Linked DNA regions of Homo sapiens. The protein of the gene in region 1 interacts with the protein of each later gene in a biochemical or structural test. Each region holds a gene or a part of one and is shown in the gene's direction. Other genes may lie near its edges.

Region 1 (3,500 bases):
ACAAAAAATTAGCCTGGCATGGTGGCGGGCACCTGAGGCAGGAGAATGGCGTGAACCTGGGAGGTGGAGCTTGCAGTGACCCCAGATTGCGCCACTGCACTGCAGCCTGGAGACTCCGTCTCAAAAAAAAAAAAAATTTCAATAGTTAAAAATGGATGCTGAGTTTAAAAAAAAAAAAAAAGGTTGAGTTGAGAGAATAAGGAGATTAGAAAACAAAAAAGGTACTTAGCCCCATGAGAGTTTTTTTGGTTTGTTTTCAGGTAGAAAATAGAGTTAGTGGATTGGGGAGGAAGGATGGTTCAGGAAGAACAAAGAATTTAAGACAGTTGAGGGCCTCTGAAAGTGGTCTTGGAAGTTCAACAAATAACGTGAATGTTGAGCTCTCTCTGGTCTAAGCTCTTAAACTATGAGAATATCTAATTATAGCTATTTCGGTTTGTAAGAGATTGGCTTTTATGTAAATAAAAAATTTTGTATCAATGTGTTTGCATATATATTTTTACGAACTCTAGCTAAGATGATTGTCTCAGCATATGTTCAGGCATGTTCTCTCTCCTAATGGAATATATTATTTATGTGAATTGTGATGGAGTGTGCCTTTAAAAATAGGGTGAAAGTAACTGAAAGCAGTGGACTCATTTGCTTGTTTTCTTAAATTAAGCTTATGTGACTCACCCATTTTCTGTCTTGGTGTAGGAACTTAGTGATTTGGCCCGTGACCCTCCAGCACAATGTTCTGCAGGTCCAGTTGGGGATGATAGTAAGTAACTTGCAAGTTGATTTTTATGCCTAATTTTTTTTTAAGCTTGTGCATTTTTAGATAACCAGAGTTTTTTTTCTTTTTCTAGTGTTTCATTGGCAAGCCACAATTATGGGACCTGTAAGTATTAAGAATTTTTAAATTTAGTTTTAAGTGAAAATCCAGCATTGATTTGGTTGTAATTTTTAACTTGGTCTGTAGGTTTATTTTATCATATAGTTAATTCTATTTTGGATATTCCATAGTTGTACTGCATTTGAAAGAAAAAACATAATGAGTTAGTCATTTGTTACGTGTACTTTGTGTCTATCCCTGTGTTCACGTTCTAGAGTATAGCCATCTCTATGACCTACCAAACATCTCTGTATCTCAGTTCAGTTTTTCTACATAGCACTGTGTAAAGCATTGTCATGGAACTTCCTGTTATTTATAGAGACAAAGTTACTGGCTCTGATATGCCATGCGTTGTGTTACTCAGAGATCTTATTCTGTTACTGCAGCTGCCAATAATCTAGCTTAATTGTATTTTGATATTTGATTCTTTATAGAACTTCAGTTTATGCAAAATTTGAATATATTTAGGCAGAAAGTGATATTTTGAATATAGCAAAATTCCTTTCTATCCTGGGTAGATAAGCAACTATATGCTGGATAATTGAATATTCAGAATTATGGATACCATCTAAGAATTTCAGAGAATTAGAGCGCACTAAAACATCCTGGGGTAAGACTGTATCTTACACAAATATTTAACTTTTTTTTTTTTTTTAACTTGCTAAGGCGCTTAAGGATTTGTTTTCTAAGTTACATGTGTATCTTCCTGAAAACTGTCTTCCCTTTTTGGTGGTTTTATAAGCAACATAAAGAGCAATAATGTACTAGGTGAGATAATGGTCAGTAAGTAATATTTAGAATTCTAAAGGAAAAAATGCTCTTAGAGTTAGTAGATGAGTCGAATCAACAAGTATTTATTTAGTAATTCTGATTCTAACTTTAGTCATTTTTCTGTCTCAAATGTGAGTACATACTGTGTGCCAGGTAATAAGGATACAAATTGAACATAATAAACATCCCTGTCGATCTTATAGGGAACTTACACTGTATTAGAGGAGACAGATACCTAAAACAAGTGCTGAAGTGTGACAAGATGGAAAATAAGTGATTGGTGAATGAAGTGCTGAGTAGGATAAATTAATGGGAAATTGAAGCAGGGAGGATTAATTTAGAGTAATTAAAATGTTAGTGCCCTAAAGGTAGAAAAACTAAATCAAAGTAAGACATGGCAGGGGTGCAAATATTAAGTTTAATACTTTGAAACGTCCTGGATCATTTTAAAACAAAGTAACATTTAAAACAGTAAAAATAGTCCTGTAATAACGAAATGCACAATCCTGGCTTTGTAGTTATTAAAAGTACTTACTTTTATCTAATTTGGTAGCAATATTGTTTAATTTTAATACACGCAGTTAAATGTTGAGTTACCCAGTTTGGCCCACACGATATTTTTGAAAGTTGGCAGTCTTCAAATAAAAGCCTTCTGAGTAGGCCCACATTCCATAAGCAGTAATGGCTTGGGATGGAATGACAGCTGCCTCCCTTTTTTAGATGGGATATGTGTTTACCACAGTGCCTACTAGGTCAATTCCATATTATCTGCCTAGTGTTTTGTAAAGCAGTTGCTTTTGCAACCTCTAGAATTTTCCCATTTTGGATTACCAGTTTTCAAAGAATGCTATAAAATGCCTTAAAATAAAGCTCATCTTTGATTCAGAGGGTAGTTGATAGTTTCATTATAAAAATTGTCAATACTAAGAAAGCACAGAAGCGTTGGTAATTAAAACTTCTAATTGGATGGTGTGCAGAATAAACTAACTCTTTAAAACTAGTTGGTTTTTCTGCTTGACAGTTTAGACTTTGTTATTTTGAACAACACACTAGTTTTTCCCAAAAGGCAAGGAACATACCTATAGACAATCAAAAGGAAACATGAATGATGAGTGTATGGTAGTAATTTTTTTAGAGAATGGTGTTGCTTATTCTGACAGATTTTTTAGCAGTTTACTTAATTTGCTGTTATTTTGAGAAAACATTTACCTTTTTTCATTTTTTAAATATATATTTCAGGTGATGGCTATTCCTTGCTGAACTTTTTCAGCAACCTTTTAATATAATGACTAGCAGTTTTCTGCTTTTACAAACAGAAGCATGTGATTTTCAGAACCATTTAAATATTAACCTGATTAACCACAACTGCTGGGTTTTGCTTTGGTAGCAGTACTCACTGAAATATGTTTTCAGTTAAAAAGGTTAGTTCTCACTGTTGGTTGGGTAAATTTCAAGAAGGAGTCAAAGATTATAAAAATCCACCCAAAGTACGGGTATTGTCTTGTACATAAGTAAGCACATAATTTAGATGCCAGCTTTAAATAGTTAACTATATGCTTACTGTGGAGTGCACCAATGAAACAACTCATTTTGTTCTTTTGGCTTCTCAATACTTCTTTGTGACAAAGCATCACTGTATAAGATAAATAGTAGCTTATTTTGTGAGTATGGTTGCTCTATGTAGCAAGCAGTTGTGACCTAAAGCAACCCATAAATTACAGATTTAGTGGGAGAACTGGACAGTTAACAACGTCACTTTTGCTTTGGACTACTACTTAGGTCCCTTAAAGTGGTGCCAGTGCCACAGAACTGAAGATTCCTGACTGTAGGGAATATACCATCTAATTTTGAGTTT
Region 2 (3,500 bases), on another chromosome or scaffold:
TTGTGAACAACAGTGTTTTGCTTGGTCCGTAGCTATATTGTGTTAAATATAAACTGAGTTTACTGCCCTTGGATGTGATTCTTTGGTTTGATTTAGTAATTTGAAAGGCATTGGTTGACTAGACTGTTTTTTGCCCAAGGAACCACTTTGTAATTGTTACGCTGCTTACTGAAGTAAACTGGACCATGCAGTAGGCATACAGCATACAGCCAGGGTGTTTTGGCAATGCTGAGCCCACTGTTTTACAAGTGACATAAAATGGATGTCATATGTACAAAGAATCTACTGAGAGGGAAACTGGATTACAGGAGAGCTCCCTTATAGTCCTTTGTCAGGGGACAGAATACCTGGGTCACACTGGGCTTCAGATTGAGAGTTGATTCATGTTCTGAGTCCATATGATGAGACACATTACGATGGAATTGTCACTTTTGTTGCCTCTGGAACTTTAAAATACCCGTTTAGTGACGTGGAATTAATCTTTATTTTTTCCGTCACCCTCAGCCCTCATTTAAGCTATCAGTTGGTAACCACTTGGGTAATCTAAACCTAAGTTGCATTTATTTGGTCACATTGGTAACCAACATTGCTTCTTAAAAGTTCCTTGCAACAGAATGACTATAATTGAGATAAAACATTAATTTTGAGGCTTTAATTTTGTAATATGGATTAGTGGCCGGGCGCAGTGGCTCATGCCTGTAATCCCAGCACTTTGGGAGGCCGAGGCGGGTGGATCACGAGGTCAGGAGTTCGAGACCAGCCATGGTGAAACCCCGTCTCTACTAAAAATACAAAAATTAGTCGGGCATGGTGGCGGGCCCCTGTAATCCCAGCTACTTGGGAGGCTGAGGCAGGAGAATTGCTTGAACCTGGGAGGCAGAGGTTGCAGTGAGCCGAGATCGCGCCATTGCACTCCAGCCTGGGCAACGAGCAAAACTCCATCTCAAAAAAAAAAAAAAAAAAAAAAAAAAAAGATTATGGCTTAGTAGAGTTACTAGGAGTGCAGTCTTAGGACATTGACTGATCTTTTTTTTCACCCCCAAGACAAATAGTGGCCTGCCATTTTCCAGCCCAGGTAGCTTCCTGGGAAAAGTTGCTTGTTTTATCTTTGACTCAGCCTGGCTAGTTACATTGTCGATTATTTCTTCCAGATGATATTTACCTGTTAAATAATGTTTATTACTCTGCTGATGAATGTTTTCAGCAACGCTGGAGAACCCTAGGCTGCAAGGGGTTCTTCACCTGTTGACTCCATCCCCCACCCCCAGTATGGCATATATCTCTGCCGTGCTATCATCTTTATTCTTTCCTTTTTCATTGTCTCTTCCTGACTGTCCTCCTTTGTTCATTATGTCTGACACATATTGTGGATTGAAAGTAGAACAGAAAGATATACTTTCTCTACCAGACTAAAAAGTTTTGAGATGGCCCTCCATTTCTCCCATGCCTCACTTCACCTTAGTTGTGTTTTTATTTATTTTTATATTTTCGCCACCTTCACTAGCGAGTACATCCCCTCACTCTTGAGGTGGGCACTGATCAGTAGGAAATAAGATTAATACCTGGCTGGTGATAATTTGGGGGGAAGACTTAATTAGATAGAGATGGATAATGGGATGGCAGCAGACCTTTCCCCTTGTGACCCTTCCCCTCATTTCCAAAATACACCTCTAGAGTAGATAATTGCTTACCATTAAGAAGAGTTAATGGAAGGTGATACTCTGATTCTTTGGCATTGGAACTACATTCAATCCGCGGTATCCTCGGATTAGTTCTAGGACCCCCTTCTCCATACCAAAACCTGAGGATGCTCAAGTCCCTGATAGAAAATGGTGTCATATTTGTATGTGCATATTCTCTTGTATAATTTAAGTGATCTCTGGATTACTTAATACAATGTAAACAATATGTAAATAGTTGTTATAGACTGTATTTTAAAAATTTTGTATTCTTTATAAATTTTTCTGAATATTTTCAATCCATGGCTGGTGAAGTCCTCGGATGCAGACCGTGTGGATACAGAGTGCCGATTTTATACAGGAGTTCACCTGTAACTCCCTGTACCTATCAACAGCTGACTCCAAATTAGAAAGAAATAGAGTAAGGGAGCCTCAGGGAGAGTCCTAGCAAAACGGATTCGATTAAACTTCAGTTCCTTGTATAGTTTCTTTAGTTGTTTATGGTCCATTTTCTATTTTAGCATTTATTATTCTATGTAGTCTATCCAAAGACGATTAAGGGAGTTCCACATGTTTTCCGGAACATTTTGAAAAGAGAGCTTATCCAGTGTACAGATCCTAATAAAGTGCACATTCAGTGTAATTTTATTTTTTTAATATCTTTTTTAATCCTATTTTTCTTCCTCTTTTGCTCAGTAAATTTTGTATGAAACTTTAAAAGGACTTATGGCATGTAAACATTATTTATAAAGTAAGTCATGGTTATAATTATTTTTCTCCTGCCTCCTTATGTATTTATTTCAGAAATGAGCCGTCAGACTGCTACAGCATTACCTACCGGTACCTCGAAGTGTCCACCATCCCAGAGGGTGCCTGCCCTGACTGGCACAACTGCATCCAACAATGACTTGGCGAGTCTTTTTGAGTGTCCAGTCTGCTTTGACTATGTGTTACCGCCCATTCTTCAATGTCAGAGTGGCCATCTTGTTTGTAGCAACTGTCGCCCAAAGCTCACATGTTGTCCAACTTGCCGGGGCCCTTTGGGATCCATTCGCAACTTGGCTATGGAGAAAGTGGCTAATTCAGTACTTTTCCCCTGTAAATATGCGTCTTCTGGATGTGAAATAACTCTGCCACACACAGAAAAAGCAGACCATGAAGAGCTCTGTGAGTTTAGGCCTTATTCCTGTCCGTGCCCTGGTGCTTCCTGTAAATGGCAAGGCTCTCTGGATGCTGTAATGCCCCATCTGATGCATCAGCATAAGTCCATTACAACCCTACAGGGAGAGGATATAGTTTTTCTTGCTACAGACATTAATCTTCCTGGTGCTGTTGACTGGGTGATGATGCAGTCCTGTTTTGGCTTTCACTTCATGTTAGTCTTAGAGAAACAGGAAAAATACGATGGTCACCAGCAGTTCTTCGCAATCGTACAGCTGATAGGAACACGCAAGCAAGCTGAAAATTTTGCTTACCGACTTGAGCTAAATGGTCATAGGCGACGATTGACTTGGGAAGCGACTCCTCGATCTATTCATGAAGGAATTGCAACAGCCATTATGAATAGCGACTGTCTAGTCTTTGACACCAGCATTGCACAGCTTTTTGCAGAAAATGGCAATTTAGGCATCAATGTAACTATTTCCATGTGTTGAAATGGCAATCAAACATTTTCTGGCCAGTGTTTAAAACTTCAGTTTCACAGAAAATAAGGCACCCATCTGTCTGCCAACCTAAAACTCTTTCGGTAGGTGGAAGCTAGACACATGAAGGTAAATAAAAAGAAAGGCTGTTAAATACAGGAAACAGTTGCATGTAGTA

Evidence for each region. Proteins that work in one complex are often made in the same cells at the same time.
Region 2: the proteins of UBE2D3 (region 1) and SIAH1 form a complex in vitro, tested with the Homo sapiens proteins (3 studies listed by BioGRID).

What each region holds. Positions count from the first base shown.
Region 1 is NC_000004.12:102,807,052-102,810,551, reverse strand, and holds part of UBE2D3 (ubiquitin-conjugating enzyme E2 D3), read left to right. Parts: intron 1-696; coding exon 697-760; intron 761-848; coding exon 849-880; intron 881-3,500. UniProt on the Homo sapiens protein: Accepts ubiquitin from the E1 complex and catalyzes its covalent attachment to other proteins. In vitro catalyzes 'Lys-11'-, as well as 'Lys-48'-linked polyubiquitination.
Region 2 is NC_000016.10:48,361,414-48,364,913, reverse strand, and holds part of SIAH1 (E3 ubiquitin-protein ligase SIAH1), read left to right. Parts: intron 1-1,910; exon of another isoform or gene 1,911-2,483; coding exon of another isoform or gene 2,484-2,485; coding exon 2,486-3,334; coding exon of another isoform or gene 3,335-3,437; 3' UTR 3,438-3,500. Other genes in the region: LONP2 (lon protease homolog 2, peroxisomal), read right to left, coding at 3,318-3,437. UniProt on the Homo sapiens protein: E3 ubiquitin-protein ligase that mediates ubiquitination and subsequent proteasomal degradation of target proteins.